Homo sapiens: one gene and its partners. The protein of the gene in region 1 purifies or fractionates together with the protein of each later gene. This does not show direct contact. Each region holds a gene or a part of one and is shown in the gene's direction. Other genes may lie near its edges.

Evidence for each region.
Region 2: the proteins of PSMB2 (region 1) and PSMG2 purify together in Homo sapiens (affinity purification with mass spectrometry; 2 studies listed by BioGRID and IntAct, with this or other methods). This does not show direct contact.
Region 3: the proteins of PSMB2 (region 1) and ELAVL1 purify together in Homo sapiens (affinity purification with western blotting, with the first as the bait; one study listed by BioGRID). This does not show direct contact.
Region 4: the proteins of PSMB2 (region 1) and PSME4 purify together in Homo sapiens (affinity purification with mass spectrometry; 4 studies listed by BioGRID and IntAct, with this or other methods). This does not show direct contact.
Region 5: the proteins of PSMB2 (region 1) and TXNL1 purify together in Homo sapiens (affinity purification with western blotting; 2 studies listed by BioGRID and IntAct, with this or other methods). This does not show direct contact.
Region 6: the proteins of PSMB2 (region 1) and PSME3 fractionate together in Homo sapiens (co-fractionation; 3 studies listed by BioGRID and IntAct, with this or other methods). This does not show direct contact.
Region 7: the proteins of PSMB2 (region 1) and PSME3IP1 purify together in Homo sapiens (affinity purification with mass spectrometry, with the first as the bait; one large-scale study listed by BioGRID). This does not show direct contact.

What each region holds. Positions count from the first base shown.
Region 1 is NC_000001.11:35,603,527-35,607,026, reverse strand, and holds part of PSMB2 (proteasome subunit beta type-2), read left to right. Parts: intron 1-1,744; coding exon 1,745-1,794; intron 1,795-3,500. UniProt on the Homo sapiens protein: Non-catalytic component of the 20S core proteasome complex involved in the proteolytic degradation of most intracellular proteins. This complex plays numerous essential roles within the cell by associating with different regulatory particles.
Region 2 is NC_000018.10:12,701,793-12,705,841, forward strand, and holds the start of PSMG2 (proteasome assembly chaperone 2), read left to right. Parts: upstream 1-1,249; 5' UTR 1,250-1,315; coding exon 1,316-1,372; intron 1,373-4,049. Other genes in the region: CEP76 (centrosomal protein of 76 kDa), read right to left, coding at 694-756. UniProt on the Homo sapiens protein: Chaperone protein which promotes assembly of the 20S proteasome as part of a heterodimer with PSMG1.
Region 3 is NC_000019.10:7,958,073-7,960,641, reverse strand, and holds the end of ELAVL1 (ELAV-like protein 1), read left to right. Parts: 3' UTR 1-2,069; downstream 2,070-2,569. UniProt on the Homo sapiens protein: RNA-binding protein that binds to the 3'-UTR region of mRNAs and increases their stability.
Region 4 is NC_000002.12:53,890,994-53,894,493, reverse strand, and holds part of PSME4 (proteasome activator complex subunit 4), read left to right. Parts: intron 1-694; coding exon 695-820; intron 821-1,533; coding exon 1,534-1,686; intron 1,687-3,500. UniProt on the Homo sapiens protein: Associated component of the proteasome that specifically recognizes acetylated histones and promotes ATP- and ubiquitin-independent degradation of core histones during spermatogenesis and DNA damage response.
Region 5 is NC_000018.10:56,635,793-56,640,012, reverse strand, and holds the start of TXNL1 (thioredoxin-like protein 1), read left to right. Parts: upstream 1-1,420; 5' UTR 1,421-1,572; coding exon 1,573-1,670; intron 1,671-4,220. UniProt on the Homo sapiens protein: Active thioredoxin with a redox potential of about -250 mV.
Region 6 is NC_000017.11:42,839,897-42,843,396, forward strand, and holds part of PSME3 (proteasome activator complex subunit 3), read left to right. Parts: intron 1-1,601; coding exon 1,602-1,682; 3' UTR 1,683-3,500. UniProt on the Homo sapiens protein: Subunit of the 11S REG-gamma (also called PA28-gamma) proteasome regulator, a doughnut-shaped homoheptamer which associates with the proteasome. 11S REG-gamma activates the trypsin-like catalytic subunit of the proteasome but inhibits the chymotrypsin-like and postglutamyl-preferring (PGPH) subunits.
Region 7 is NC_000016.10:57,183,240-57,187,464, reverse strand, and holds the start of PSME3IP1 (PSME3-interacting protein), read left to right. Parts: upstream 1-1,425; 5' UTR 1,426-1,644; exon of another isoform or gene 1,645-4,018; intron 4,019-4,225. UniProt on the Homo sapiens protein: Promotes the association of the proteasome activator complex subunit PSME3 with the 20S proteasome and regulates its activity.

The sequences.
Region 1 (3,500 bases):
GTGAGGGTCTGGTTTCATTCTTCTGTGTATGGATATCCAGTTTTTCTAGCACCATTTATTGAAGAGACAGACTGTCCTTTCCCCAATGAGTGTTCTTGGTACCTTCATCAAAAGTCAAATGTAGATATGTGGCTTAATTTCTTAATTTCTCTATTCTGTTTAATTGGTCTATGTGTCTATTTTTATGCCAGTAGCATACTGTTTTGGTTACTACAACTTTGTGATATATTTTGAAGTCTGGTAGTGGTATCAACTACCAGATTTGTTCTTTTTGTTCAGGATTGCTTTAGCTATTCAGAGTCTTTTGTGGTTCCTTACAAATCTTAGGATTTTTTTCCATAATTCTGTGAGGCATGTCATTGGCATTTTGATAGGGATTGCATTGAATATATAAATTTCTTTGGGTAGTGTTGTCATCTTCATAATATTAATTCTTCTGATCCATGAGCATGAGATGTATTTCCATTCGCTTGTATCCTCTTCAGCTTATTTCATCAGTGTTTTATAGTTTTCGTTATAGAGGTCTTTCATCTCCTTGGTTAAATTTATTCCTAGGTATTTTATTTTCTTTGATTTTTGTGTCTATTGTAAATGGGATTGCCTTCTTGATTTCTTTTTCAGCTAGTTTGTGTATAGAAATACTGATTTTTGTATATTAATTTTGTATCCTGCAACTTTATGGAATTCATTTATCAGATGTGAGAGTTTTCTGGTGGGGTCTTTAGGTTTTTCTATATAGAAGATCATGTCATCTGCAAATAGGGACATTTGACTTCCTGCTTTCCAATTGGGGTACTCTATTTCCTCCCCTTGCCTAAGTGCTCTGGTTAGGACTTCCTAGACACAGGGATGCTTTTGTGCTAAGTTCCATCTTCTGACCCCAGTCCTAACCTCGACTTTAGCCTCTGTGGGCAGTGGGTACTTTGGAATTCTTAGCTTTTACAGACTATAGATGAAGCACAGATAACCACTTCTCTCCTTACATTCCATTCTTCACTGTCAGTATCGTAAGAATCTGGCATGTTCATTCTTTTTTGGTGCTGCCCTCTCGCTCAACCTTAGCCACGCTAGAGCTCCAGGCCACATCCTGAAAAGAATTAGCCTGGCCTCCCAGTGACTTTCTTGATTTGGCATCTGTCAGTAATACAGCTGATTTGCCCACCAAAATAACTACTAGCCACCCCTGAAGCCTGAGTGCATAACATGTCGTCCCAGTTTGCCACGCCCACAGACAGTTCCTTTGGCTCCTATTTGGGGAGAGTCTCAGCCCCATCCTATGAATTCTCTTCCCATTGTTAAACAGAGACCCAGCTGGGAAAACAAGGCTGAAATTCTGACCCCATCGTCTCTTTCCCTGATTTGCAGCTGACTGGGGCAGATGGAATTGATTCAAACCCTGGACTAAGGGGGAGTGAAAGGGGTGGGTTATGATAAAGAGAGACAGGCTGCTGGACTTCTTCAGAGGTGGGCCCTGGCCAGGGGAGGCAGAATTCCTTCATGCTCACCCTTTACTGTAGCAAATCAATTTGCAATGGCTTATAGCTGCTGGAGCACTGGGTCTGGGGCCCCCCCAGCTGCATGTGGAGTAAGTTGATTGCAGGCTAGAAGGCAAAGCATTTTTTGCCTTTTACGTTTGTGTGGCACTGAGACCTGAAGAAGCCAGATTTGGAACTTAATCAAAAGCTTCTGAGAGTTGGATATAATGACAGCACCGGAAGTATTTGGTCTCTGTGTTCTCTTTCAGCTATCTCACGTGAGAGGGCAGTGGAACTCCTTAGGAAATGTCTGGAGGAGGTGAGTAGTTCCCATAGGATCCTGAAAGGAATGTTTGTCTCTCTGTTTGCCAGTGTTGTTCCTGTTCCTCAGTTATATTTTTTCAGATTTTTGCCAGAAGGTGTAATACATACCCACTAACCAGATGTGAAGTTGCTACCAGGGATAGAGTTTGGTGTGGATAGCAAGCTCACTTTTCTCTCACAGATTACCTCCTCAATGTCAGTTTTATAATTTAATTCTTTCTGGTTTATCCAAACCAGTGGTTCTCAAATTTTAGTGTGTGTAAGTATCACCTGGGAAACCTGTTAAACAGATTGCCATCTCTGCCCCAACCCTCAATTCTGAGTCCACTGTTCTGAGGTACAAACTGGGAAGCTCTGCTTTAACTGGCAGTCCCAGGTGATTTTCCTACAGGTGGTAACTGAGGCTGTACTTGAAGAACTTCTGCTCTAGACTTTATTTTTTTATTTGAGACGGAGTTTCGCTTTTGTTGCCCAGGCTGGAGTGCAGTGGCACGATTTCAGCTCACTGCAACCTCCGCCTCTGGGTTCAAGCAATTCTCTTGCCTTAGCCTCCCGAGTAGCTGGGATTACAGTTGCCCACCACCATGCCCGGCTAGTTTTTTGTATTTTTAGTAGAGACAGGGTTTCACCATGTTGGCCAGGCTGGTCTTGAACTCCTGACCTCAGGTGATCCGCCTGCCTCGGCCTCCCAAAGTGCTGGGATTACAGGCATGAGCCACCACGCCCATCCCTGCCCTAGACTTTATACCTGCTCTGTTCTTGTGCCACCTGTAATTGCCATACTGCCTGCTCCCTTAATAGTGCTCGAGTCTTTGTAATCTGTGAGAAAAAGCCTCCCCTAAGAATTCAGGAGGACCATAGAAAGCAACTAGGAAGCTTTGGGCAGAAGGGGAGAGTAGACTTTGGCTTGCGAGGACAGGATTACAGAACACACCCTTTCTAACACTACTCCTTAGAGTCTAAGGCTTTGGGTATAGATGGAGAATGGGGGAATGGGGAGGTCAAAAACCAGCCACATTAGTTTTTTTCATTCTTTTACTGTTCCTGTGGCTTAAGGATGAACTTGACCTCGTGGTTTAGTAAGAGAGTAGGAAGATAAGAGCAGGAGCGTTGGGAGTAATGTCAGTTTGCTTCTTACACAAACCTTTTGTTTTCAGTCCACAGTGCCCACCCCACCCCCCGCTTTTTTTTTTTTTTTTTAAGAGATGGATCTCACTTTGTTGCCCAGGCTGGAGTGGAGTGCAGTGGCACCATCATAGCTCACTGCAGCCTGGATTTCTGGAACTCAAGCGATCCTCCCAAGTAGCTGAGACTACAGACAGGCACCACCATGCCCAGCTCATTTTATTTTTAAGAGATGGGGTCTTGCTATGTTACCTAGGCTGGTCTTGAACTCCTGGGCTCAAGATATTCTTCCACCTCAACCTCCCAATTACAGGCCTGAGCCACAGCTCCTGGCCTCTGCTTCGTTCTGAGGACAATCACTCTTTGTTAGCTTATTATCTTGAGACATTTTAAGAGAGACGTCTGTGTTTACCAGACTGATGGGTAACAGACTATGGGGAACAGAACACTGGATTGTCTCATTCTTTCGTCAGCTGACTGACCAGAGACAGGCTCTTAGTTGCACCTCCCAGTTCAGCCTCCCTGCCTCCCAGTCATCCTCCAGCTGCTGTTTGGGTACCCTCTACCACTAGAGTA
Region 2 (4,049 bases), on another chromosome or scaffold:
CCTGGTTCAACTTCGCTGATACCCACATGTTTCAGCGGTAAAGAAACCCTGATATCTGCCGGGCGCGGAGGCTCACGCCTGTAATCCCAGCACTTTAGGAGGCCGAGGCGGCCGGATCACGAAGTCAGGAGTTCGGGACCAGCCACACCAACATGGTGAAACCGTCTCTACTAAAAATACAAAAATTAGCCGAGCGTGGTGGCGCGCGCCTGTAATCCCAGCTACTCGGGAGGCTGAGGCGGAGAATCGCTTAAACCTGGGAGGCGGAGGTTGCAGTGAGCCGAGATCGTGCCACTGCACTCCAGCCTGGGCAACAGAGAGACTCCGTCTCAAGAAAGAAAAAAAACCTGATATCTTACAGCAGAATATAAACCTCCAAATACAACTTACACTCGATCCGACTTCCAGAAGTCGCTCGCTAAGCGCTTCATTCTCACGGCCGTCCTAAAACGCCAAGACCGCTCGTTCTATCGCCCCAGACTCTTGCTAGCACCTGCTCGGCTCGTTTTCTTTCTCGGAGACGAGGACGCTCTCCTGCCTCAAACTCAAAGCTCTGCCTACTCTGCGTTGCGCACCCCACAATCCTCGCTACAGTCCCGGCAAGCAGATGCCGCTGTCGGCCCGGGGCCGCCGGGCAGGAGGGAAAGGTTATGGGTCGGCCCGGCGGTCTCTCCCAGCACCCGCGACTCTCACCTTGCTCAGCTGCTGGTGGATGAGCTGCTTCAGCTCGGAGGCTTTCTCCGGAGGCAGCGACATGCTGGCAGCCGGCGTCTCCCCGCCGCTTCTCCCCGCCTCAGATGCCCTAACTGCGCGGCCCCGGCCGGGCCAGGGAGCGTTAGGAGCGACTGGAGCACAAAGCGCCGCAGCCGTTCGCCTAGCGCAGCTCCCGGGGGACGCAACGCCGCGTCAGGCCGGGGGCTGACCTGGAAATGAGGCCCCGGCGGCGGCGGCGCCAACTGTTTTCAAACAGTGGCGGACAAACAGGGCTTGGGGCTGGCCCGCACGCTGCCTGATCGTTTCCGCCCGCCGCTCCACCTCCCCGCGGGCCCCGCACCCCGAGACCTCAGCGCACCCCATCGCCTTGCTTGCCAGGGTCTCCGAAAGCGCTGCTGGCCCCTCTTCGCGGCCACCCGGCGGCCTCTTTCCGCCCTCTGAACCGGCAGTTAGCTGGACGGGCCTCAAGGGCCCGGCGCCCAGGGACTCAAAGGACCCTCCCGCGCCCCGCGAGGCTCCGGGGTCTCGGGCTTCCGCCTTCTTGCTGCCCTCGTTCTTGCCAGGGCCGCGGTTAGTCCCTGCTGGCCACCCCACTGCGACCATGTTCGTTCCCTGCGGGGAGTCGGCCCCCGACCTTGCCGGCTTCACCCTCCTAATGGTGAGTCTCCATTTGCGCTCGGGGCTGCCGCCTCCCGAGGCCCCTGCGGTGTCGCCACCCCGACGCGGGGTGTTTGGCGGTGCCTTGGGAGAAATAGGGCACTAGTTTCTATTTCATGTTTTCGGCCGGAAAAAACAGGGAGGTTGTAGCCGGAGGCAGCCGTCCAAACAGAACCTTTGTCGGCTGTAAAACCAAACGTAGTCAAGTCTACAATTTGTAGTCTCTGTTTCCTGTAAAACGTGATGTGTTCGTACGTTCTAGATACACTGTACTTATGTTTTGCAGGGCATCCTTCAGTTTTATCCTAGAAAGTCTTTCTACGACTAGTTTTAGAATTAGTCTTAAGCTAGCATATTATCGTTGTTAACCGGAGAACTACTGATAGGGCAATAAACATTAACTCTTGCCGGTAGTTAGCGCAGTTTTATCGCTCTTTATATTCATTCATTGTTTTAATAAAGTCTGTTATGTGCGAGTATTAGAATAAGACTAGGTGCGTGCCCTCAAAGAATTTACACTGTAGTTGGAAACATGTAATCTAAGAGCAATAAATGCTAGGCTAGAAGCTTGAAAGGGTATAGAAAGGTCCTGAGATAATTGGGAGGGGAGGGACAGATGGCTTGTTAAGAAAGGCTTTATAGAGAAAGTAGTATGCAAAAGATGGAGGGCCCGTGGGCTGGGAGTAGGGGAAAGTAGGCGTTTCAGAAAGATGGATGTCTAAAACAGAGTCAGTAAGCAGGGGGACTTGAAGACTGCCAAGAATTTGGAATGACACATTGAGAGAGAATAGGCTGTAGGCCCTGTGAACCCAGAAGGCACCATTGGAAAATGCACTGTTTGGAGTGGTATAAGGCTGGAGAGAGCTGGAAGTGTCATCCTTATTCATTACATATAAAACACACAGCCCCAGAGAAGAGTGTTTCAAAAAGGAGGGAGTGGCCATGTCAAAAGTAGCCCAGAGATGTGTAAGGTGAAGAAAGTGTATGTTTGGATTTAGCGACATGTTAATGATGGTCACCTGGACAAACAGTTACCAGTGAAGTGGTGAAGAGGAAAGCCATATTGGAGTGGGTTGAATGAATGATAGAAAACAAGTTAAAGATTTGGGTTGTATAATATATATTCAGTCATTAATTCAGAGACAGGCATGATGGCTCATGCCTGTAATCCCAGCACTTTAGAAGGCCGAGTACAGGAGGATCGCTTGAGCTCAGGAGTTCAAGACCAGCCTGGGCGACATAGTGATACCTCATCTCTACAAAAAAATAAATAAAAATTAGCCAGGTGTGGTTTCCTGCACCTGTATCTCAGCTACTCGGGAAGCTGAGGTGGGAGGATCACTTGAGCCCAGGAAGCAGAGGCTGCAGTGAGCTGAAATCGTGCCACTGCACTCCAGCCTGGGCGACAGAGTGAGACCCTGTCTCAAAAAACTTTTTTTTAATAAGAGATAAAGTTTCTGCTTATGTTTTCGTGGACGACTTGGAGAATTTTTGCTACATAGAGAAACAAGAAATGAGGTTGCAGTTAGAGGGCTATGTGGGGTCAAGGGAGAGCCTTTTAGAATGAAAGATATTAGAGCATGTTTACGTGCTGATGGGAATAATACAATATTGTGAGGAAAAGAAGGATGGTACAGAAGAGTTTAACCCAAGTAGCAAAATCGTTGAGAAGGGAATTGCAGGAGGTAACTAGGCAATTGGTAGGTGACAACAGTGAAAAGTGGGAGAACATGCTGAGGGAACACCCGAAGGACAGAAAACAAAAGGAGTTGTTGGAAGAATGCAAAGGAGGAGCTACATTAAAAGGATACTTGGGGGATAGCCTCAATAAAAATTAGGCATGTATTAGATGTAGTTGGTAAGGGAATGGGAAGAAGTTTAGGTAGATTGAATAATATTGAACTTTTTTTTTTTTTTGAGATGGAGTTTTGCTCTTTTTTGCCCAGTCTGGAGTGCAATGGCACGATCTTGGCTCACTGCAACCTCTGCCTCCTGGGTTCAAGTGATTCTCCTGCCTCTGCCTCCCGAGTAGCTGGGATTATAGGCATGCACCACCACGCCCAGCTAATTTTGTATTTTTGGTAGAGACAGGGTTTCACCATGTAGGCCAGGCTGGTCTCAAACTCCTAACCTCAGGTGATCCACCTGCCTCGGCCTCCCAAAGTGCTGGGATTACAGGCATGAGACACCATGCCCGGCGCCCTTTTCTAAAATACAAAATATGGGGAAAAATTTGGGCAAAAGTTTATAGTTTTGGACATGTGGAATGTGAGTTTCCTGTGACCTAACCATGTGGAGACGTCCATTAGGTTGTGGAGCTCCTACGTGTTCTGGGATGTAGGTAGGGATTTGGCAGCTTCATTATTTTAAGTCATGGGAAAAAGAGAGAGAGAGAGAGAGAGAGAGAGAGAGAGTGTGTGTGTGTGTGTGTGTGTGTGTGTTTAGTGTGAAAAGATCACTTCAACCTTTCGGAATGGGTAAAGAGGCACTAATAAAGCAAATGGTAAGCAGACCCAAGAGTGCTTCTGTTCATACCTCGAAGCCTTTACACTTGCTTTCCCACTGCCTGGAATGTTCTTTCCCAGATCTCTGTACGGCTGTCTCCTTTACCTTTTTCAGGTCTCTAGTCATTTGTCACCTAGGGTGAGTCTTTCCTCGAACACTCTACTTAAAATTGC
Region 3 (2,569 bases), on another chromosome or scaffold:
CCTTTTGACCCGTGTGTAACTTCCTCTGGTAGTTAGACCCCAGGCAGCTCCGAATTTGTGAACCTGCTTCCTGATGAATTCTCCCTTGTTCCCCCTTGGCTCTGCCATTATTTCGTTTTCAGTGTAATTTGCCAAGCCGCAGTTTTCTGTGCTGGCTGTGCCTCTAGTCGCAGCTCTGTGACTGATTCCCTCCCGGGTGCTGAGTCCCCTCCCCGGCCACCATCCTGCGTGAATATCCTGAAATTCATGGGCTTCCTCGGGGGCCCGCCCGCAGGTGGTGCTGGGTGGGTTCCGCCACCTTCTCCTGGAAGGTGAGCCTTTTCCTGGCCAAGGGCAGCTGCCTTAACCTCTGAGAGTCTGCGCTTGGCCTTAGTCCTGGAGACCCAGCCTCCAGGGACTGAACCGTGCTGCTGTTGGGAGCCAAGACCGGCCCTTTGGAGCCGGCAGCCCAGGGGTCCCTGCTGGATCAGAGAAATAGAAGCACCCGAAGACGGTTAGTGGCAATTCCTTGACCCGGTTTGCTTCCAAATGAAGGCCATTTGTCCACCAGGCATTGAAAAGACATGACTTACCCAGTCCGGCATCGGACTTGAAAAATCGAAATTGACATCACTCAGCTGTTACATTTCACATCCGATTCAGCCCCCTTTTATTTCCATGTGCTTTTCGCAGCCTTCCTGTGTTGGATGAAAGAGAATAAGAATTCAGCTGACAGGAGGCCTCTATCCTGTCCCTCCACCCCACCCTCCACCTCAATCCCCTCCCATCTTCCCCAGACCTACCTCACCTACTAGGACCTGAGGCAGCTCCTTAGCAGAGACCCCTGGGGTTTAGCTGACTCTGGGGGTCAGGGGTTCCTGTCCCCAAACTTCGCAAGACAGCCCTGAAGTCACAAGTGCTTTCTTTTAAGTGGCATTGGCAATTGGCGTGTAATGATGGCAGTAGAATCTGAATCTCGGATCCCAGGCAGGGTTCACATTTCCAAACCTTTTTGATTTCCCCTGACCTCTAATGGCTGGATCCTATTTTTCTACAACCTTTCAGTGACATCGTTCAGGTTTCTTTCTTGGCCATTTAAAAAAACAAATTTTTTTTTTCTCACTTGTAAGTCACCGCCAGTACCTAAGTTAGGCTAACGGAGACTTTGACAGGACTGGATTTTTCTTCCACCAGAAGAGAAGCCTTTTCCGTTGGTTTGGGGCCACCTCTTTGACCATGACCATGTGATGTTCCGTTTACAGTGACTTGCTTTGGGGGAGGGGAGGCTCTCTTAACCGATTCCCATGTTGTACAGTAGATGGTTAGACCTTTTGTATATTAGTGTGTTTTAAGTTATTGATTTGTTTTATATAAAATAATTTATTTTTCAGGTGCCATTTTTCATTTTAACTTTGTTTTTACATGGGTTTGTTTTCAATAAAGTCTGACACTGGTGTCCAAAAGTCAACAATAAAATGAATCCCATTGTGTTCTTTTGAAGATGCCTATGTAACTTTTAAGCTTTTTAAATTATTTTCAGAAAAAAAAAAAGAAAAGCCCTTATCAGTTTTCCATCAGCCCATTGCCTTTTTATTTTTTTTTTTTAATCCTTGTGAATAAATGTTCTTTAGTGTTTTAGGAGGAAAAAGCAAACCTAGATTTTGATAACCCAGAAGACTTCAGATTAATAAAGAAGCTTTGAAAGAAGACCATTTTTCAAAATTTTAGTGAAGTGTGAATATTTTTTGTCAATGGCTTTCTCAAAGAGAATGAAACTTTTGCACCATTTTCAGAGTTTTTATAGAGATGCCAAATTGATATATTTACATGTAATGGAAACATGAAAAAGTTTTATTAAACAATTGTTCATAGCTGTGTAGACATTTTAATTCAGTTTCCAAAGCTCTCAAAAAATCGTATTTTTGAAGTACGGAGTGATGCGGTTTGGGGCGTGGCTTACAGTTCCAACGACTCAATTGTCCCGATACTCAGTTCTTTCTACAGGTATCAGGTTCGTGTTAAACGCTGTATGTTAACTATGACTGGAATTCTGTGATATTTTGGTAATAAATGAAGTGGGATCATTGCGATGTGCTGGTGTAGGGGTGATGGTGTATGACTTGTGAGCAGCCCACAGCCCAGTAATAGAGTGCCAGGGGATGGGGACCTCTTCCCTCCGAGGTAAGCCTGTGCCAGGTCCCGGGAGCCCACGAGGGGACACCCAGTTCGGGTGTGCCCTGTGCTGGCTGACCCACGGCCCTTCAGCTCCCACCCAGATGCCCCTCTTCTCCAGGTTCACAGGTCAGTGGGCCCACCGAGTGGCCCCTGGGTATGGCCCCCCTCCATCTGCTTCCCACACCAGTGCTCCCCCAACAGTGACCCGGGGATCCTGCCTCTTCCCTCGTCTGTATGTGGAACCATAGTCACTCCCGAGCCCTGGGGCCATCCTCAGTGTCCCCTCCGTGAGACTGATCTCCTTTGTCTCCTTTGGGATGGGAATGGTTAGGGGTCTCAAGGTCAGAGAGTCCAGGTTCAAATCCTGGCTCTGACACCACTCCCCAGCGTGCCACCCAGGGGAAAGTCCCTGGCT
Region 4 (3,500 bases), on another chromosome or scaffold:
TTGAGACCATCCTGAGCAACATGGCAAAACCTTGTCTCTACAAAAAATACAAAAATCAGCTGGGCGTAGTGGTGCACACCTGTAGTCCCAGCTACTTGGGAGGCTAAGGTGGGAAAATTACCCGACCCGAGGAAGGCAAGACTGCAATGAGCCATGATCGCACCACTGCACTCCAGCCTGGATGACAGAGTGAGACCCTGTCCCAAAAAAAGAAAAGAAAAAAAAGAAAGTTGAGAAAGGGTTTTTAAGTTTATGTACTTGGTCCTTGAGTTAATGGTATTGTAACTTTTTCTGATTCTGAACAGTTTGCCTTTTAACTTCTGGTGTTAGGTAAATATGGAAGTGATTTGTTGGGGCTTGACTTATAGTTTTGGGGATTTTAACAAATTGCACACCAGGTGTTACAGTGGCTTTCAGTCTTCATTTCCCAAGCAGAACATTTGTTGATTTTTAATTCACAGTGTGAGAAATAGGATTCAAACTTGAGAATCTGAAGGAAAACTTCCTGTTTTAGCATTTTTAGAGGGAGGTACTTGGTTTTAGAAATCACTGTAGTCTATGAGAACTAAGAATTCATGGAAACAAAAATACAGCCTGCTTTTGACTATCAAAATCTTGTAATTTTAACTTTTTCAGAATCATGTATTTAAGTGGATTTTAAACGCTGAATATTGTTCTTTTTTTAACTTTATAGGCAGAACAGATTATATTTGATCATTTTTCTGATCCTAAATTTGTTGAGCAGTTAATTACTTTTCTATCATTAGAAGACAGAAAAGGAAAAGATAAGTTTAATCCACGACGTTTTTGCCTCTTTAAGGTAACTATATTGTTTACATATCCTCTTTGTAATGCTTAGTAACTATTCAGTTCGTAGGTTCATAACTTATAAATATTTGATCAAAGCTAGCCATCTGCCTTGATCTAAAATGGCACTGGAATTTACACTGAACATGTACAGACTTTTGTTGTCGTTATTCCCTAAACAAGACATTACAACCAGTATTGACATAGCATTAATATATAATACAATTAGTAAGCATTGTATTAGGTCCTAAAAGTACTCTTAAGATGATTTAAAATATACAGGAGGATGTATATAGGTTATATGCAAATACAATACCATTTTATGTCATGGACTTGAACATTTTGGTATTTTGGGGTGGGGATCTTGAAACCATTTCCCCACATACACCTAGGGATGACTGTATTTATCTTTAATGTTTGTTGTAATTGGCATTAGAAGGAAAAAAAATACCCAAAACTGCATGCGTTTTTTATGTTTAGTTGCTTTTTTTGAGGTGTGATACTTAGAGAGATTATTAATGTTTGTTTCATTGGTTACATTTTAATGTGATATTTAAAATGACAGTATTCTTACTATTTTAACTTACCGCAATTGTTAAAGCAGTTCTAAAGGGGAGTGTGCTTGGAGCTTTTAAGCACGTTAGTAATGTACAGAATAATTACAAGCATAATTATAATCGAGATGATAGTCATTTGAGTACTGAAGAACAGTCTTTGTTTTTATAGGGTATATTCAGGAATTTTGATGATGCCTTCCTGCCAGTTCTGAAGCCCCATTTAGAACATTTGGTTGCAGATTCACATGAAAGCACCCAGCGATGTGTTGCAGAAATTATAGCTGGTTTAATCAGAGGTTCTAAGCACTGGACATTTGAAAAGGTGATGTATTAATATTTGTACAGAACATTTCCTGTTAAAGCTATGTTACCCATTTTGGTGGCAATTCCCAACACATTAGATACTGATAATTAAAATATGAAATCTTCAGTGATATGAAATATGCCGATATGTAGACATTGCTTTTGATTACAGATTACAGCCTAATGGTCTCTAGGAACATTTACTATCTTTAAATTTTTGAAGTTTTTATCCACATTGGGGGAAAAAATTTAAAAAAAATTAAAAAAGAATTCCAGTTTCTTGAAAAAGAGGAAGATCCTGGAACACTGGTCCTACATTATTGCACTGTGTCACTCTGCTGATGGTGCACGTGTGCTTCTCCCTTCATTAAGCCATTCCAGCTTCTCATTAAGTCCTTTCTCTTAGCCTCCTTATCATTTATATTACTTGTCCAGTCTTTTAGACAGTTGGAGTTTGACTCTCCCTTTTAGAGTATCCCTCTTTTTAATTGTAAGATATAGTTTTCACACACCTGCCTTTAAGGTTAGTTCATTAGCAAAATACACGAGACTAAAAATAACCTGGTCAAATGTCAGGACCACCTGAGCATAAGGTAGACCACTATTTTGTCGAAGAGATGACACAAATAGGGTTTTTTGGTCACCTTTTAGGAGGACTGCAAACACTTTTGCCTACAAGAAACAATTTTATTTTAAAATGTCACATGTATTCTTGTCATCCGTTACATTACTAAAGCCACTCTTGAGTTACCTGTTTTGCAAAACATAATTCCTATCCCTATATGTTCTTTGAGATAAAGCTTTTTTTGATAAAATCAAAACAGTGCTGCCACTGGAAATTTTGTCTCAAACCCTTCCTGCTGATTGAAGAATTCCTTCCTTCCTTCCTTCCTTCCATCTGTCCTTCCGTCTGTCCATCCATCCGTCCATCTTCCTTGTCTGTCTGTCTTCTCTTTTTTTTTTTTTTTGGACAGTCTTACTCTATCGCCCTATCGCCCAGGCTGGAGTACAGTAGTGTGATCATTGCTCACTGCAACCTCTGCTCCCTGGGTTCAAGCAATGCCTCAGCCACCTTCAGTAGCTGGGATTACAGGCATGCGCCACCTTGTCAGGCTAATTTTTGTATTTTTAATAGAGGCAGGGTTTCTCCATGTGGCCAGGCTGGTCTCGAACTCCTGGCTCTTGAACTCCACCTACCTTGGCCTCCCAAAGTGCTGGGATTACAGGTGTGAGCTACTGTGCCTGGCCTTCATTCATTCTTTTAAAAAAAAAAATTCAAAATTTTTTTAGGAACTTAAAAAATTAATAATAGTAACTGTTCATGTTTATGGGGTACATGTGATATTTTGATACATGCACACAATGTGTAATGATGAAATCAAGGTATATCCTTTTTAACTAAAATACAGTCCATGGACCTGCAGCAGGGGTAGCACTTGGAAGCTTTTTAGGAAAGTAAGATCTCAGGCCCACTTGACATGAATCAATCTGCATTTTATCAAGACCTCAAGGTGATTTGTATGCTCATTAACCTATGAGAAAATCTATGTGTGTAAATGCAGTCTCTGTACGACGTACATGTTTTTATGGGCTATTTATCCAAGACTTGGAATTTGAAGATTATATCTCAGGCTGATTACTAAATTAAATTAAAATGTCATTGCCTCTTTAAGGTTTAATCAAATGATCTTGATAAACATGGAAAACTTGATTGAGGTTTTGTTTCAGCCTAGCGTACTATTATACAAGATTTTTAAGAACACATCAGTCATATGAGAGATTTGTTTTGTTTTGTTTTTTTAGACGGAGTCTTGCTCCGTTGCTTAGGCTGGA
Region 5 (4,220 bases), on another chromosome or scaffold:
GATGCTTTCCTAATTTAGTTCCTGGATCACCACAGTATCCTCCTAAATGGATCTCACTGCCTTCCATCCTCCTTGATGCTACCTGAGGGCTTTTCTGAAGACACTTTTTCTTTTTCCTTTTTTTTTTTTTTTTGAGACAGGGTCTGGCTCTGTTGCCCAGGCTGGAGTGCAGTGGCGCAATCATGGCTCCCTGCAGCCTTGACCTCCCCAGCTCAAGGAATCCTCCCACCTCGGCCTCCCGAGTAGCTGGGACCACATGTGCGCGCCATGACGCCCGGCTACTTTTTTGTATTTTTGGTAGAGACGGGAGTTTCACCACACTTGTAATTGCAAAATTGCCCTGAAATGATTTTTCCATTCTCTTCCCGACAAAATCCAAATTCCTTAGCTAGTCATTATCTGACCTTGGCCTTCCCTCCAATTTCATCTCCCCAGCTAAATCCAAAGACAGATAATTTGCCACCTAGCCTAATATTTAAAAGAGTACACTGGCGTTAGCCTGCCTTGACTTGAAATCACAGAACCTACTTCACAGGGATTAAATGAACTAGTACACATATAAAGAACTTATGTCTTGCCTGGTACATCATGTGGTAAATATTAGCTATTCTTCTTATCCACCCTCTCAACTCATGCATTTGCACCTGGTGGTCCCCTTGCCTGGAATATTACCTCTCACCATCCATCTAACCCCTGCTTCTCTTTAAAGATTCAATCCAGGAGTCAGATTCCTAGCAAGTTTACCCTGCCCCACCCTTCCATCTCGTTAGTCTCCACCGCTTCCTATTCAAATTATTGTTTGCGTCGGTCACTAGACCGTGAACTTCCTAAAGGAGGGATAGTGTCTTCATCTTTTTGGTCAAAACCTAAAGACAGGTGCACGATACTTTCTGAATGACTGCACAGAAAGCGCCCCATATGTAATTAAGTCTGTTAATAAATATTCCTAAACGTTATTTTGTCTTGTATGTAGACCTGCCCCGAATACAGTACAGGAGCATCTTCAAAGTACTTCCAGTGGGTGCCCTGGACAGCAGCTAAGAACCCCGGGGTAAAACGAGTTTCCTCTCTACTGTTACAAATCAGAAACCTCCTCCGTAAAAGCCTCAGATCTGGGAAACGCGGATGCATATGCCAACTTTTGAGTCTCAGTCTGCGCCTGCGCACGTGACCTCTACACGTCTCCTCTGCGCCTGCGCCGCTCAAGTTAGCGCGAGGCTACTCAGTCGAGGGTGGGACTACGCTTCGCGTTTTGGGATTGGGCGCTGAAGGCCAAACCGGACGACGCGGAAATGACGTCACGCCGGGGGCCCTGCCGCGCGGTGGCTGCTGGGTGCCGCACGCCTTCCCATCCTCCTCCTCTCCCCTCCCCCATCCCTCCCCGCCCCCTCGGCCGCTCCGCTCCCTGGCGTGACTCGGCACTGAGAGTCCCGGGAGAAGACTCGGCGGTCGCCACCTCTTCTGTCCAGGCCTCGGCCTTCCTGAGCATCTCTCCTTCCTCTCCCAGATCGTCTTCTCCTTCAGTTTCAAAGCCAGTGGCGTCGCGGCCACCCTGCCGGGCTCTCTGTGAGGATGGTGGGGGTGAAGCCCGTCGGGAGCGACCCGGATTTCCAGCCAGAGCTGAGCGGCGCGGGCTCCAGACTCGCCGTGGTCAAGTTCACCATGAGAGGGTGAGGCCAGGCTCGAGCTCTGTGGGTCCCCGTCTGTCCTTCCTTGCTTTCCTTTCACTCTTTGTTGGCCCTGGTTTCCTAGCCGTCTGCTGCCCCGGAGTGTCCGGCAGTCGCCGCAGCCCCAGGAGCTGCCGGAATTAGGCCTCGTTTCTCGGGTGTGAACCCCCATTTATGCACAGGGGTTCCTAGACGGGCTCGGGGGCCTGGCTGGCCGGCTTCTCCAGCTCAGGAGATTTCTCACCTGCTCCTTTTCAATTCTTTGACAAACTGGTTTTGGGGGTGGCCCGCCCCTATTCCTTCCAGCCTGTGGGAGTCTCCGCAGCCACCCTTGCCTGAGCCTGACCCCTTCTTTCTGCAGAGCCAGCTGTCATTTGCATCTCCAGAGCTCCAAAAGCTTAATTTACCGAACACTTTGTTTCTCTTCACCACCTACATCTCTCTAAAGCCTTTGAAGATTCAGATGGGGCGATCTAACTAATATGCGTAGCTCTGAGTCCTGAATTTCTGCTAATGCATTTCGAACTAAGTTAACGTTGGGTTAGGGTGCTTTTTAAATTATTTGAACTTTTTTCTTCCTCGTTCGGCCACTAACTTGTAGCTTAGGCTCCCCTATGTATGCGATTGCAACTGGTCACACACGACAGTACATATATAATATATTTCAGGTGGACAGTTGGCCGGATGTCTTAGTTTGACCCGGCTCTGTTTTTTCACTTAAGAGGACAGGGATCTTGAAAAATGTTAACTGTCTTTGGTAAATATCAACAAAATTATAGGTCGTAGAAAAGGTGGACCTTTTATAGTGGATGTGTAGTAAAGTTCCTTTGTAAGAATGACATGTTGGAACTCGGCGTTGAGAACCAAGATTTCAGCGTGTGTGTGTGTTTCACAGATCTCTCCTTGTGTATGTCGATAGTATTTAGTTAGAAGTATGAGAGGTTTCCGCTTTATTTTCCTTGACCCCTTGGCGTTATTTATACATCTAACTTGGAGCAGTCTACTGCTGGTATCACTGTTTATGTAACACACTTTCTTGTCCAAATAACTGTATAAACACAAAATTCCATTTTGAATTTCAGAGCAAAAAACAAAGTTTCTACTAGATGGTTCACTAAATGTTGAGTATATAAATGGTGGCATTAGGATTATATCGTTTTAGGGAATGGATGCAGATAGATATGAAAACAAGTTAAGACTTATTTTTGGACCAGTCTCTCTTACACTGAATTGAAAAAGGATAGTACCTTGCATTTCATATGGTGGGCTAGAGTACCCATATGATATACGGAATTTTGCATTTACTAAATTTAAAAGGATAAGTGATGTCATATATATAAAACACCTAAAAGGAATGTTAGAATTCTATAAATGTGTCTTCTCATTTTTAGCAATTTTGTGATGTCTGTATTCTTAATAATAGGGGAATACCTGTAGTACATTAAGTATCTAGGCCACAGTAGAAAAGGGAAGATAGGATTTCAATAAGGAACCTCACCTCACTTTTAGTTCACTTATTCTAATTCTGGCCCGTCGAAGCTTTTATATTTTTGTCCCTCAATGATATATTGTTTTTCTCCCTTACCATAGCAGTGGGAGAGATAATAAAATAATAAATAAATATTGATTGAAGTGAGAAAACTGGGGAAACATTGCTGCGAAGGAAGGTTTTTTCTATCAGTGTGGTGTCACTTAAGCATAAGCATAACTGCAGACATTGATTGGTAAGGAACTGTTACATTTAAAAAGGTATTTTAGTGGAATTAAAATTTTTTTTCTTTGTAAAAACCGAGGGAAAATTAATGTTTGGATTTAGAGTAAGTTCAAAAGCATATTTATATTACGTTTACAAATCTGGTAAGATTATTGTATTTACCTTTAATATTCCTCGAACTTATTGGCCATTAATACATCCTGTCTAAACTCATTGTCAATAGAACCCCAGAATTATGTATATGACGGGTCAGTATTAGACTCAGAAACAACTGTATTCAGTAAAATCTTGTAAGAATCCTCTTAGATCAAAGTTAATGCTGTCCCAGTTTAGACTGAGGGCATAGTTTCTCCAGCACCTATTTCATTTCCTTTCCAACCCTATTTTAAACCTTTTTTCTTTTTTTTTAACCTCTATGCTTTATGCACTCTCAGTCTAAATTTTACTAAAATGATACATAGATTGTTCTCCTGTGTAAGAATCTTTAGTGGCTTATGATAAAATATATATAACATAAAATTGACCATTTAGCCATTTGTAAGAGTATAATTCATTGGCATTAAGGACAGTCAGCCCTCTGTATCCATGGATTGAACCAAATGTGGATAGAAAATATTTGGAGAAAAAAAATTGCATTTGTGCTGATCATGTACACACTTTTTTCTTGTCATTATTTTCTAAACAATACAGTATAACAACTATTTACATAGCATTTACCTTAGGCATTATAAGTAATCTAGAGATGATTTAAAGTATATGGGAGAATGGTCGTAGGTTATGTGCAGATACCATGTCATTTTCTATTAGGCCCTTGAGCATCTGTGATTTAGTGTCTTGCT
Region 6 (3,500 bases), on another chromosome or scaffold:
GAGGCAGGAGAATCACTTGAACCCGGGAGTTGGAGGTTGCGGTGAGCCAAGATTGCTCCATTGCACTCCAGCCTGGGCAACAAGAGCGAAACTCCATCTCAAAAAAAAAATAAAAATAGGCTGTAATCCCAGCACTTTGGGAGGCCAAGGTGGGTGGATCACTTGAGGTCAGGAGTTCGAGACCAGCCTTACCAACATGGAAAAACCCCATCTTTACTAAAAAAAAAAAAAAAAAATTTAGCCGGGCGTGGCGGCACATGCCTTTAATCGTAGCTACTGAGGAGGCTGAGGCGGGAGAATTGCTTGAACCCGGGAGGCGGAGGTTGCAGTGAGCCGAGATTGCGCCACTGGACTCCAGCCTGGGCAACAAGAGCGAAACTCCGCCTCAAATAAAAATAAATAAAATAAAATAAAATGGGACTGAAGAGGCCGGGTGTGGTGGATCACACCTGTAATGCCAGCACTGTGGGAGGCTGAGGCAGGTGGATCACATGAGGTCAGGAGTTTTTGACCAGCCTGGCCAACATGGTGAAACCCCATCTCTACTGAAAATACAAAAAATTAGCTGGGCATGGTTGGCGGACCCCTGTAATCCCACCTAATCGGGAGGCTGAGGCAGGAGAATCGCTTGAACCCAAGAGGTGTAGGTTGCAGTGAGCCGAGATCGTGCCACTGTACTCCAGCCTGGGCAACAAGAGCAAAACTCCGTCTCAAAAAAAGAAAACAAAACTGAAGAGTACCTACTGCACAAAATTCATTCGCTTTTTTAAAATAAGTGAGATAACACATTGAAGGACCTGGTACAATTCTTACTATGTTAAGTGCACAATACATGTTAGTTGTTATTAGACACTTGGGGCCTTGGAAATACCCATTTATACCCAGTTGAAGTATAAGAGAGGTGGTGCTGCCACCCTGAATGCAGGCTCAAGTGAGATTAAAATTACAGTAAGTTGGCCGGGTGCAGTGGCTCACGCCTGTAACCCCAGCGCTTTGGGAGGCCGAGGCGGGCGGATCACGAGGTCAGGAGATCGAGACCATCCTGGCTAACATGGTGAAACCCCATCTGTACTAAAAATAAAAAAAATTAGCCGGGTGTGGTGGCAGGCGCCTGTAGTCCCAGCTACTCAGGTGGCTGAGGCAGGAGAATGGCATGAACCTGGGAGGCGGAGGTTGCAGTCAGCCGAGATCGCGCCATTGCACTCCAGCCTGAGCGATAGAGCAAGACCGTGTCTCAAAAAAAAAAAAAAAAAAAAATACAGTAAGTCTTCACTTAATGTTGTCCATAGGTTCTTAGAAACTGCGACTTTAAAAATGATGTATATCAAAACCAAGTTTTTTTTTCATTAACATTGTAACAAAATGACATCGAACAAAATGATGTTATTTGAAACCAGGTTATTTGAGGACCTTCTGTACTTGATTTGCTTACCTGCTGTACTTTAATTTCCTTCAAGTCGCAGTTGCTAAGAACCTATTGATGACATTAAGGACTTACCGTATGCAGATGATTGCTTGGGGATTTGTGAAGGGGTCTCTCATTTTCTTGATGAGGTAAGGGTTGTACAGATATGTGATTCCCCTGATCCCTCTTCTCTCAGGTCACTCTACATGACATGATCCTGAAAAATATCGAGAAGATCAAACGGCCCCGGAGCAGCAATGCAGAGACTCTGTACTGAGGCCAGGGCCAGGGCCAGGGGACTCTGTGAGTCTGGCTCAAGACCGACATTGCCTTGGTTTGTTACATGACTATCGTGATGGGGAAACTGGCTGGAAATAGTAATCACACCTCTCTGTTTTTAGTTAGAGTCTAATGAAACTCTCATCTAGTTCTGTGATGTGTTTACCTCTTTTTTCAGGCCTCAGGAACTCTTCTATTTCCTTCCCTAATACCCCACACCCAACCTGTCGTAATTTCTGGAGAACTCCAGGTTTGTGTGTGCAGGATGTTGGCACAAAAATACCTGTGTTTTCATTCTCCCCCTCTCTCCCTCCTGTGTCTTGCGCTTTATGTTTTCTTCCGTTTGATAATTAGTTGGTTAAAAGCTGAGGGAACCGGAAGGAAAGTGCTAGGTGTTTTTTAGGAACTAGGGTGGCGGGGGGACGAACTTCTCTTCCTCACATGAGGTTACTGTTTCTTTCCTCTGTGGGGCATTGGATCCTCCCACAGTTGCCCTGGTGATGACTTAGGGCTTCCCATCTGTGTACATCCCACTTTGAATCTTGATCGTGACAAGAAATACCTTAGGCCTTCAGTCAATTCCGAAGCTCCTTCAGTTGTTTTTATAATGGGCGTTTTCACATGCACATATGTGTATGCATGTATACGCCCATACAGACATGCACACACAGACTCCTACTCCATTAGCTAACATACCCTCCCTCTCCACAACCCCTGTCACATACCTTTCAGGAGGTGACAGTTGTCTTAGTTGTCATCTACCCAGACAAACGTCCTGGGCCCGTCCTCCCTCCTGATACTGTAGCCTCTTGGTACCCAGGGTGAGTTGGTGGAGAACAGAGAGATGAGAAGCAGAGGGCTTGGGGAAAGCCTGTTCCTCTCTGACTCAGCCCTTTTTGGCATTATTGCAAGAGCTTGACTCCTGGTTGCCTTTTCCCAGCCAGTTTTCAGTTGGGGTGAAGGTTTCTGCAAGTGTGAGGTCCAGATGCTGCTGCTCATGTTGGGCTTTCCTTTTGGGAACTATTTCTCTTTATTTATAGTGTCGGGCTTCCGGGGAAAGCAATCATTGGTGTGTATGTGTATGTGCATGCACACACGTGCATATACACATTTGTGTATGTGGAAATGTGCTGGGCAAGTCAAAACTATAGAAGAGTTGCCTCCTGTCTCTCGAATCTTCCAGAGATATCACTTAATTGTTAACAGCTTTTGTGTTAATCCCCTTCAGCCCCTAGCTCTTTTATTCTACCACGGCTGGAGAGTTGATACCTGCAGTCAGCCTGCCAGTGACTCTTAGTGTCTGTTTCTGACTTATTTTTCCTGTCTCTGTCTTCCAACCCCCAATAATATTTCCACCGGGGATGCATCATTTTTACTCCCAATATTCTGTAGAGAGGGAGTCAGGATGCTGTCTTCCCACGAATAGTACTCAGTAACAAACCAATTGCATTTTAGTTGGGCAGTGCTCCCACCCACCCTCCAGATCCCTTCCAGCTAAAACCCTTCCCCCTTCCCTCCATGTGTTTCTCAGTTTCCCGTTTCGTTTGTTGGACTGTTCCACTGCCCCTCCTCCTCACCCTATCACCCATGGATCGTAATGTAAAATTCTTTTACCATGTCAAGAAATTATTAAAAATACAGGTACTTTGACCTCTTTCTAAAGCCGCAGACCCTGGTGCAATGCTCTGGTGGCTAGGGATGTACTCATGCTCATATGTGTGCACGCTTGGACACCCACCTCCATGGACACCTAGCCACCCTGTTGTGTGTCCTTATGCCAGTTGAGCTGAATCTTTTCCCCAGTATAGTGGAAAGA
Region 7 (4,225 bases), on another chromosome or scaffold:
GGATTCTACTCAGTCGATAACAGACACTTCTAACCCTTCAAAGTTCAAAGTACAACACTCCAGGGGGAGCAACCTCTCTCAGAGAACTATACAAGACAGGACCTCGGAGTCTCAGCCGACCGCCTCGGTCTCAGTCGGTTTCCCTCCCCAAAGACGGGGAAAGTGAGGCAGCAGGAGAGACAAATGCCTAATTTGGACTCACGCAAGGGGTGTTGGTGGGATAGACTCTCCCCACCCCACTCGGGCAATAAGCCCGGAAGCAGTTGGATCCTGTGTCTGGGACACCTGGTCGATCTACAGAGAGAGGGAATAATTCCCGTTTCCCTTTCACTACTCCCCACTCTGGCTTTCCTGTGGATGGAGGTGTCTTCTTCCCATCACCGCCCAGAAATCCCCTCTCCCCAAGGTCCTTACCCAATTTTCAGCTCCGGCTTCCGTAGTAGGACATTCCGCTAGTTCTAGCTCCTGCTTCCTAGCCCCATTCTCTCTCTATCCCAAGGCGTTTCTAAATCTCCCCGGGGAGGTATGCCTCATCCGTGCCACCTAGACCGTAAACTCCACAAAAAGAACCCTCCTAAAGCGTCCCTTCATCTACCCTTTCTATCCCGGGCACCCCTGAGTAGGTCAGGACCCCATCGGTACCAGGAGCCACCCCAGGAGATAGATAGCTGCCTCTCACCTGGGCCCTGTTAGCCGCAGCCTCCTCAGAAGGGCGACCCCCAAGAACCTCTTCTGGTGAGGACCCCCGAAAGAGGGAACACCCTCTTCTAGGAACCTCTTCAGATCCCTCAAGCGCGGGCCTCGGTGGAAAACCTCTCGGCTGTTTCTCAGGTTCTGACCAACGCCACCTCTCTCCCGGGCCCTTTCCAGAGCCTACCCCGGCCCCAGTCCGGTCCGCCCGCCCCAGGCTCGAGCGGCTGTTCCCCTCCCTCACAGACGTCCCCAACCCTCAGACTCCCTCCCGTTCCGCGTGCCCAGGGCTCAGAGCAGCGCGGTCGGGCTGTGGCACTGACTTTCTCTACCTCCCGGGCCCACCGGAGGGAGGGGGCGGCGGCGGCGGCGCGACTCCTTTGTGACAGGTCCGAGAGAACGGCAAAGATGGACGCGAGGCCACGGCGCTGCCATTACGCGCAGAGCCCACCCCCGCTTCGTACCGCCCCAGCCCTCCCTCAGTCCCCTAGGAAACGCCCCTTCCTCGGTGGCAAGCCCTCTCCTTGACAGCCAATCACCTTTCAAAAATCGTGTCACGTGATCAGCGGGACCGGCCCGCCCTCCAGGCGCAGACTGGCCAGTCCTCATCCTGAGGCGTGAATGGCCCAATCAAGTCTCTCCGGCTCGTTTTCAGGGTACCGGATTTCCATCGGGCTCCCGGGGAGGAAGAGCTCCGCGGATTGGGTTACGTCGCCGGAAGTGGGGCGGGACTCTATTGTGGCGGTGAGGAACAGGAAGCCCTGAAGGGTCAAAAGAAATACAAAAGCAAAGGCTATTTTCTTTTTTTTTTTCTTTCTTTCATTCATTCCTTCCTCTGTTTCTTTCTTTCTTCCTTTCATTTTTTTTTCTTTTTTAAGAGCGAGCGGCTCTGCGGTGGCGGTTTGGGGTGGGCGCCGCCGAGGTGAGGTCGTCTCGCCTCCCGCGCGCCGGTAGGTGAGTGCGGCCTCGGTCCTGGCCTGGCGGCGACACCTGGGTTCCAGCTTCCTTACGGAAGAGATGAGCTGCGGCTGCTGTTAGGGTTAGGGCCAGGCCTGTTCTCAGTCCGCGCACCCGCTCCTTGTCCGGAGTAGCCGAAGCCTGGGGCTTGCGGGCCCAGCCTGAGGGGAGCTGAGGGTGCCCGCGGGAAGGCATCTGGGTCGCGGCGAGGACCCTTTCAGGCGGGCCCAACACTGCCGGGCGTTTAATGGGGTTTCCCCAATTTTCTGCTAGGTAGGGCCACCCAGGTTTCAAGTGAGTAGCAGGCTCCGTTCCAGAGGTCTTGGAACAGGTCCAGGTTACTCACTCGGATGTGCGGCGTCTGGTTGGAAATGGTTGAATCCCAGAATGGCAGTGCAGGATGGGAAGCACATTTATTGTGTGCCATGTACCAGTTGCTGTGCCAAGCGAATTTTCTATTACGGAAAACAAGCCAGCTGGCCCGTTTTGCAGAAAACTTAAGAAACAAAGAGAGTTGAAGCGTCATGCTTGAGAGTTGGTGGTCCTTGTGACTGTCAGTCCACACAGAGGAAAGGGGGAGACCTGTTTGTTCGTAGTCGTGGTTCTTTAATGTTAGTGGAAAACAAGATCTCCTGGGGCCCTTTTAAAATGCAGTTTCTCAGACTCCCGCACGCTCGGGTAGCCCGACTGGTTAGTTCAGGAGTGGGACCCAAGAAGCCAGATGCGAGCCTGGTGATCGGAATTCCCGATGACCTCTTGCCTACCACCTGTGACATAAGATTTGTCGATTCATCAGTTATTTGGTGTATTCATGTGTCCACAGGGACACCATAAAATGGAAGGCACCCTTCTGAAATATTTGAAGGGAATCAGTGGGTAGACTCCTTTTTGATACAAAGTATTGAGCCGACAGCAGCTTTTACAGTCTTTTAGTTAGATGACCTGCGAACAATTTGTAAGGATCTGAAAGTAGAGGCTGCCCGATTATCTTTCTCAACTGAAGTCTTCATGTCCTTACCCTGTGGGGAAGTGCTTCATGATATAAGAAAGGAATAATTGTGTCAAAACCATTTAGTTGATTATCAGTCTTCACTTTCATCTTCCAAGAATGGTGATGCTTGGTTAGAATCAAGCTGCTGCTTTAGCTATTGAAAACCACGTATGTGGTAAATCAAGTAACAAGTGCGATGTACGTACAGGGTCAGTCATAGTGTAATTATGCCTTTATGGCAGCTAAATTAAGCATTTTCAACGTGTTCACCATTAGTCACCTTTTGAACATACTTTGTCTTCATTCTTAAATATTATGTTTCACTCTTTACTATAGAATATGTTGTTAAGATTGTTTTGTCTAAAATCAAGTATCGACAAGTTTAAAAAAAAGATTGTTTTGTGTTTGGTTTTCTGTATTTCCACTATGCTCTATGGAACTATGGGTTTGTTTTTGTTCAATTTGTTTGGTATTTATTAGACTTCTTGAATCTGTGGATTAGTGTCTTTCATTAATTCTGTAAAATTCTCAGCCATTTTATATGCATATATTGCTTCTTCCCATTGTTTCTCTTTTTTTTTTTATCGATTTAACTAAACCTTTTCACTCTTTTCTCTATGTCTTTTACTCTGTTCTTTCGTAGTACATTCTGGATAATTTATTCTCAAGTTATTTCCATTGTTATTAAACTCGGCCTCTGAAATCTTAAATCATATATTGCAATTTTTAGTTTCTGAAGTTCTGTTTGGTTTGTGACACTTTTACAGTTTTTTATTTCTTACTATTTTGAGGCTTAATTTTATTTCTTTAAACATGGAAAGTATAGTTGTTTTTATAATCTCTATGTTTAATTCCACTGTCTGAATTCCCTTTGGGGGAGTCTGTTTCTGTTGTCCATTATTCCTGCTGTTTTACTTCCCAGTTCACCTTTACTTTGAAGCTGTAGTTCTTTTGGGCACAAGATTAAGATGGAGAGGGAGGTAGTTGTCAGACTCCACTCCCTGGATGGGCTCCTGGCTTGAACTTGTTTCTGTTATCTCATAAAGGCACTGAAACTTTAGCTTTTAGGTCAGAGAAGTCCTCAGGATGAAATCCATTTTGAATATTGGGCTTAATTTCTGGTTTTCACCTTCTAGATTGTGTCCAAATTCTTTACTATCTTGTTAGCTTTTCTATTTAAGAATTAATATTTTTGGCTGGGCGTGGTAGCTTACACTTGTAATCCCAGCACTTTGGTAGGTCGAGGTGGGCAGATCACTTGAGGTCAGGAGTTTGAGACCAGCCTGGCCAACATGGTGAAACCCTGTCTCTACTAAAAATACAAAAATTAGCCAGTCATGGTGGCGGGCACCTGCAATCCCAGCTATTCGGGAGGCAGAGGTAGGAGAATCGCTTGAACCTGGGAGGTGGAGGTTGCAATGAGCTGAGATCATGCCACTGCACTCTAGTCTGTGTGACAGAGCGAGACCCTATCTCAAAAAAAAAATTATTTTTGACAAATTTCCAGCATATTTAGTGCAGAGGTGGAGAATTGGTTTCAATTACCTAGCCCACTATTTCAAGAAATGAAAATCCCCCTGTATTCTG